2 linked regions of the Homo sapiens genome follow. The protein of the gene in region 1 interacts with the protein of each later gene in a pairwise test. Each region holds a gene or a part of one and is shown on either strand. Other genes may lie near its edges.

Region 1 (3,821 bases):
ACTGCTCAACTACATGGAAACTGAACAACCTGCTCCTGAATGATTACTGGGTACATAACGAAATGAAGGCAGAAATAAAGATATTCTTTGAAACCAACAAGAACAAAGACACAACATACCAGAATCTCTGGGACACATTCAAAGCAGTGTGTAGAGGGAAATTTATAGCACTAAATGCCCACAAGAGAAAGCAGGAAAGATCCAAAATTGACACCCTAACATCACAATTAAAAGAACTAGAAAAGCAAGAGCAAACACATTCAAAAGCTAGCAGAAGGCAAGAAATAACTAAAATCAAAGCAGAACTGAAGGAAATAGACACACAAAAAACCCTTCAAAAAATTAATGAATCCAGAAGCTGGTTTTTTGAAAGGATCAACAAAATTGATAGAACGCTAGCAAGACTAATAAAAAAAGAGAGAAGAATCAAATAGACGCAATAAAAAATGATAAAGGGGATATCACCACCAATCCCACAGAAATACAAACTACCATCAGAGAATACTACAAACACCTCTATGCAAATAAACTAGAAAATCTAGAAGAAATGGATAAATTCCTCCACACATATACTCTCCCAAGACTAAACCAGGAAGAAGTTGAATCTCTGAATAGACCAATAACAGGAGCTGAAATTGTGGCAATAATCAATAGCTTATCAACCAAAGAGTCCAGGACCAGATGGATTCACAGCCGAATTCTACCAGAGGTACAAGGAGGAACTGGTACCATTCCTTCTGAAACTATTCCAATCAATAGAAAAAGAGGGAATCCTCCCTAACTCATTTTATGAGGCCAGCATCATCCTGATACCAAAGCCGGGCAGAGACACAACCAAAAAAGAGAATTTTAGACCAATATCCATGATGAACATTGATGCAAAAATCCTCAATAAAATACTGGCAAACCAAATCCAGCAGCACATCAAAAAGCTTATCCACCATGATCAAGTGGGCTTCATCCCTGGGACGCAAGCCTGGTTCAATATACGTAAATCAATAAATGTAATCCAGCATATAAACAGAACCAAAGACAAAAACCACATGATTATCTCAATGGATGCAGAAAAGGCCTTTGACAAAATTCAACAACCCTTCATGCTAAAAACTCTCAATAAATTAGGTATTGATGGGACATATCTCAAAATAATAAGAGCTATCTATGACAAACCCCCAGCCAATATCATACTGAATGGGCAAAAACTAGAAGCATTCCCTTTGAAACCTGGCACAAGACAGGGATGCCCCCTCTCACCACTCCTGTTCAACATAGTGTTGGAAGTTCTGGCCAGGGCAATTAGGCAGGAGAAGGAAATAAAAGGTATTCAATTAGGAAAAGAGGAAGTCAAATTGTCCCTGTTTGCAGATGACATGATTGTATATCTAGAAAACCCCATTGTCTCAGCCCAAAATCTCCTTAAGCTGATAAGCAAATTCAGCAAAGTCTCAGGATACAAAATCAATGTGCAAAAATCACAAGCATTCTTATACACCAATAACAGACAAACAGCCAAATCATGAGTGAACTCCCATTCACAATTGCTTCAAAGAGAATAAAATACCTAGGAATCCAACTTACAAGGGATGTGAAGGACCTCTTCAAGGAGAACTACAAACCACTGCTCAATGAAATAAAAGAGGATACAAACAAATGGAAGAAAATTCCATGCTCATGGGTAGGAAGAATCAATATCATGAAAATGGCCATACTGCCCAAGGTAATTTATAGATTCAATGCCATCCCCATCAAGCTACCAATGACTTTCTTCACAGAATTGGAAAAAACTACTTGAAAGTTCATATGGAACCAAAAAAGAGCCCACATTACCAAGTCAATCCTAAGCCAAAAGAACAAAGCTGGAGGCATCACGCTACCTGACTTCAAACTATACTACAAGGCTACAGTAACCAAAACAGCATGGTACTGGTACCAAAACAGAGATATAGATCAATGGAACAGAACAGAGCCCTCAGAAATAACGCTGCATATCTACAACTATCTGATGTTTGACAAACCTGAGAAAAACAAGCAATGGGGAAAGGATTCCCTATTTAATAAATGGTGCTGGGAAAACTGGCTAGCCATATGTAGAAAGCTGAAACTGGATCCCTTCCTTACACCTTATACAAAAATCAATTCAAGATGGATTAAAGACTTAAACGTTAGACCTAAAACCATAAAAACCCTAGAAGAAAACCTAGGCATTACCATTCAGGACATAGGCATGGGCAAGGACTTCATGTCTAAAACACCAAAAGCAATGGCAACAAAAGCCAAAATTGACAAATGGGATCTAATTAAACTAAAGAGCTTCTGCACAGGAAAAGAAACTACCATCAGAGTGAACAGGCAACCCACAATATGGGAGAAAATTTTCGCAACCTACTCATCTGACAAAGGAAATATCCAGAATCTACAATGAACACAAACAAATTTACAAGAAAAAAACAAACAACCCCATCAAAAAGTGGGTGAAGGACATGAACAGACACTTCTCAAAAGAAGACATTTATGCAGACAAAAAACACATGAAAAAATGCTCATCATCACTGGCCGTCAGAGAAATGCAAATCAAAACCACAATGAGATACCATCTCACACCATTTAGAATGGCAATCATTAAAAAGTCAGGAAACAACAGGTGCTGGAGAGGATGTGGAGAAATAGGAACACTTTTACACTGTTGGGACTGTAAACTAGTTCAACCATTGTGGAAGTCAGTGTGGCGATTCCTCAGGGATCTAGAACTAGAAATACCATTTGACCCAGCCATCCCATTACTGGGTATATACCCAAAGGACTATAAATCATGCTGCTGTAAAGACACATGCACACGTATGTTTATTGTGGCACTATTCACAATAGCAAAGACTTGGAACCAACCCAAATGTCCAACAATGATAGACTGGATTAAGAAAATGTGGCACATATACACCATGGAATACTATGCAGCCATAAAAAATGATGAGTTCATGTCCTTTGTAGGGACATGGATGAAATTGGAAATCATCATTCTCAGTAAACTATCACAAGAACAAAAAGCCAAACACCGCATATTCTCACTCATAGGTGGGAATTGAACAATGAGAACACATGGACACAGGAAGGGGAACATCACACACTGGGGACTGTTGTGGGGTGGGGGAGGGGGGAGGGATAGCATTGGGAGATATACCTAATGCTAGATGACGAGTTAGTGGGTGCAGCGCACCAGCATGGCACATGTATACATACGTAACTAACCTGCACATTGTGCACATGTACCCTAAAACTTAAAGTATGATAATAATAAAAAAAAGAAATGCTTTAAATTTTAAAAAAAAATTCACATTTCTCCAACTGTCTTTTTCTCTTATTTAAAAAATTATTTTAAAACATTTGCAGTGGGATACAAATAAGCTCCATAATTGTGGTGAGTTAATATGTCTAGTAATTCTTTTTTGATCTACAGGTCTGCTCTTCCCACCTTTTTCTCCTGTAATTGTTGTTGAAGAAACTGAGTCATGTGTCCTACAGTTTCCCACAGTCTGGGTTTTGCTGATTGCACCCCACAGTGTCAATTAATATGTCCCTGTATTTACTATAAACTGGTAGTTGAATCTAGTCTTGATAGAAATTTGATTTGCAGTGCTGGGAGACAAGACTGCTTTTCCGCAACTGAGCACTTATAGGCCATAGTTTGAGAAATGTGCTAAGGAACAGCTCACAACTTTAGTTACAAACAATATTGAGTTCTAATTTTTCAAGTGACCTATAAAGGGACTGAGGTAATCATTAAAAAAAAACAAGTCACTTATTCTGGAGTCTATATGGGAATTTTT
Region 2 (3,821 bases), on another chromosome or scaffold:
AGGCCCACAGGAACCATGATGGGGACTCCACTGCAGGAGACCACAAGGACCGGGCTTGGGCATGGGGGACATAGTGCTATGGCTGGGGCAGTCCTGTCCCACAGGACTCCAGGGGACAGACGGACAGGAGGGGGTGGCCCAGCCTAGGAGGGGGCGTGGCCATGTGGACAGGAGGGGTGGCCCGGCTAGGAGGGGGCGTGGCCATACCGGGGTCTCCACGGGTGGCTCCTGGGGCCGGGGCTCCTCTGCCCGGGGCTGCACCTCCTGGACTGTTGCCTGCAGGCAGCTGGAGCACCTCCAGGTCCCACTGCTCGTGTGTCCACCAGTCAGAGACATGCAGAACAAGACAGCGGGTGACAGATCCCCAAACCCACGGGTGGAGCTCCAGGGCTCCGACCATGTCTTTTCACAGAGGGGGAACCGAGGCACAGCAGAGAGATGGGCAGAGACACAGGAAGGGAGAGCCCAGCAGGGGGACATTTACCCTTCGTGGGGTGGCCCTGGCCAGCGTGATCAGGGTCCCCTTGGCGTGCTCTCTGATGAACCCCAGGAATCCCCAACACCTGCGAGCCCTGGTGGCTTTGCCTGCCTCTCAGGGCTGGGCCCTGCCGGGGGCCTCCCTAAACTGACCCACCTGTTAAGGGGAATGGCACCCAGCAGAATGGGGAGGTGATCAAGGGCAGAAAGAGACGGCAAGGAGGAACGGCTTCAGGAGCCGAGCAATGACCCCCACTGTGCCCCTTATTCTAGTGATGAGGCACAAGGCTGAGAGGGGGCCTGATGACGGCCACTCAGGGGCTGGGGCAGAGCCTCGCCTGAACGTGGGTCCCCACTGCACCCAGAGCTCTTCCTCCCACAGACTGCCACGTCCTGTGGGGTTGGAATGGGGGCAGGGCTCGGTGGGCCGTGGGGAAGGAGCACCGGGATGTGAACGCAGAGGAGGCCTCCCGCCCCCACTAAGCCCGGCGTCCTGTGCATTGGTGGACAAACTCCCACCTGCCCTGGGGGGCACAGCTCTGTGGCCTCTGTGCTCCCCAGCCCTGTCTGGAGTGGGACTCTGGGGTGGGGCTTGGGGGTGGGGGCCGGCTACCCATGGGGGCGTGGGCTGCAGCCTGGGATGAGCTTGGACAGGGTGGCATCTTCGCCCTGGGCCTCTGTTCTGCTTTGCTGCCCTCAGGGGCCCAGCTGTCCAGGCTGGGCAGCAGGTGTGGCCAGACCGGGAGGCAGGTGGCAGGGTGGGAAAACCCCAGGCCCCGGCCCCACGGCCCAGTGACCTGACTCAGAACCCCTTTCCATCTTGGATGGGAGAGGCTTGGGGTGGCTTCCCTTCAGGGTCAGTGGGTGGAGGCGGCCGTGAACCGGGGTGGCCTGGTTGCGCTGGCAGAGGTGCAGGCTCACCTGGGGATCTCCCGGAGCGGAGGGGACAGGCAGGCCAGGTGGAAGGCCCGAGGGCAGCCGTCACAGCAGATGAGCTCCCCGCCGTCCCGACACACGGCACACTCGTCCTCATTCTTCTGGCACAGGCAAGAGACGCCCATGCAGACTGGGCTGGGGTGCAGCACCCTCCTGAGAGCCACCTCCTTCCCAAAACAGCTCCCCCAGCAGCATCTCTGGGTACCTGAACTCCCCAGTCTCTGCCCTGCTCCCATGCTGCCAGGGCCTGAAATTCTGCCCTGACCACCTGTTCCCCATCCATCTGGTCTCCAACAGACACCCCCCGGGGCCATCCCTATTGGGAAGAAAACCCGGTTTCTTGCAGGCTGCTGCGTTCCAGGGGCCCCGGAACTGTACACCAACCACATGAACCCTTCCTCACAGGGCAGTGGGGCCAGGCCCAGGGAGGTCTCTCCCGACCTCAGCGCCTGCTGAATCCTCCACCTGCAGCCCCCACCGTCCTTGTGCCCTGCCTGGATGGTGCCTGCTGTGCCTTCAGGGGTCTCCCAGGTACCACTTCCTCCAGAATCCCCCCAGACAGCCAGGCTAGGCTGGTCCTGCACGGCAATGACCTCACTCATTCTAACAATCCCCCAGACGCCCACCAGCCCGGGTGCTCCTGCAGGGCAGGACTGGCTCCTGTCACTGCTAAGTGCCAGGGCCCCACAGAGCCCCTGGTGCCAAGTGGTCAAGATCTGTAACCCACCACGGCAGGCACCCCCCACACTGCTTCTACCCCATTAAGAAACCATGCTGGGGACGAAAGATGAGCATGGCATTCCCAGTGGATCCTTGACCTCCTGGCTATAGCAGGGGCGCCCGGCCCACCCACGGGCCCAGCTGAGAGCAGCGGGTACAGCCTGGACCAAACGCCATGCTCTTAAGAGCCTGAGAAGACCTCACTTTCTCTGACTCATTTAAACTATTACCATTGCGTATTATCAGGAAAAAAATACTGTCTATTAAAGAAAAAGAGCTGTACCCTGTGGGTAGGGGCTCAGGCCCCGGTGCTCATCCCTGAGTGCCCAGGTAAAGGCAGAGGCAGCAGGACCCACCCGAGGGGAGCAAGGGCAGACAGGGGCCTCTCCTGTGGTCTAGGGCATTACCTGGTGGAGCTGGGGGTCACTGGGGAGGGCCAGAGGGGCGGGAACGCTGCCCTGCTGGCCCAGCCTAGCCTCACCTCCACCCTGCAAGGAAGAGGGGCGTCAGCAATGGGGGCAGCCTCAGCAGCGAGGGTGCACATGGCTGTGGCACCAGGCGTCTCTCGGCAGCAGCCCCCAGCCCCCAGCAGAGCCACTCCCCCAGAGGCAACGCTGTTCCTGGGGCGGGGGGCATCAAGAGCCAGGCTCCCCAGGGAAGGTCAGGTGCTTACGGGGGCAGCGCCCTGGGCTCCCTTGGCTCGAACCAGAGGCTTCGGGCCACTGCTGCTGCGGGCCTTGTTCTTCCCACTGCCGGAGTCTTCGAACTTGCTGGGAGTGTAGAACTCCCCGCCAACCTGGATGCACTTCTTGGAGCCGCCTGGGAGGAGATGCCGGCTGGTCCTGGCTCACCCGCCCAGCAGGACCTGCCTTGGCAGTCGTGTAGGCCCCAGGGTGGGGTCTAGCAGAGACAGGTGGAGTTCCCACAGCCTGCATTCCTCCAGCCCGCCCCCACCCCAGTCGAGTCTGGGGCCCGGGGATTGTCCTGGATCTACACCAGGGTGTTCAACAGCGTCCCCCGAAGTTCACGTCCACCCAGAACCTCAGAGTGTGACCTTACTTGAAATCAGGGTCTTTGTAGATGTGATTAGTTAAGATGAGGTCACACTGGACCATAAGTTCAATGACTGGTGTCCTTATAAAGAGGACACGTGGGAGACAGCTGTGAGACCACAGAAGCAGAGGCTGGAGCGGTGGGTCCTGAGCCCAGGAACAAGGAGCACAGGGGTACCCCCATAATGACCAGCAGCTGGGAGACACAAGGAAGGATTCTTCCCTGGAGCCTCCAGAGGGAGTGTGGCCCCGAGACACCTCGATGTTGGCATTTCTGTCATTTCAAGCCTCCCAGTTTGTGCCAATTTAACCAACAGCCTTAGGAAGTAACACAGTGGGCCTTGGGACCATCCAGAGGTGCAAGACCAGGGCCCTGGCTGTGCTTGGTGTTCCCAGCCCATGTCCAGCACCGAGGAGACACCGTGTCAGGGACTTGAGATGGAATGCCCCGATGGCACGGTGGGTCTGCCACCAGCGGCCCTGCTGTGCCCTGGTCAGATGGCACTGGTGATTGCATGGGGTCAGCGGCTGGCCAGGGAATGGCGGGCGAGGATGCTGCAGGCTGGCCAGGGTATGGGGGGCAAGGACGCTATGCTACAGGCTGTCCTGGTTGAAGAATGCCGATACCCTGGAGGG

What was found.
Region 2: the proteins of HEXB (region 1) and AIRE interact in a two-hybrid assay, tested with the Homo sapiens proteins (one large-scale study listed by BioGRID and IntAct).

Annotation. Positions count from the first base shown.
Region 1 is NC_000005.10:74,709,147-74,712,967, forward strand, and holds part of HEXB (beta-hexosaminidase subunit beta isoform 1 preproprotein), read left to right. Parts: intron 1-3,821. UniProt on the Homo sapiens protein: Hydrolyzes the non-reducing end N-acetyl-D-hexosamine and/or sulfated N-acetyl-D-hexosamine of glycoconjugates, such as the oligosaccharide moieties from proteins and neutral glycolipids, or from certain mucopolysaccharides.
Region 2 is NC_000021.9:44,288,788-44,292,608, reverse strand, and holds part of AIRE (autoimmune regulator), read right to left. Parts: intron 2,953-3,821; coding exon 2,807-2,952; intron 2,622-2,806; coding exon 2,541-2,621; intron 1,515-2,540; coding exon 1,399-1,514; intron 308-1,398; coding exon 208-307; intron 1-207. UniProt on the Homo sapiens protein: Transcription factor playing an essential role to promote self-tolerance in the thymus by regulating the expression of a wide array of self-antigens that have the commonality of being tissue-restricted in their expression pattern in the periphery, called tissue restricted antigens (TRA).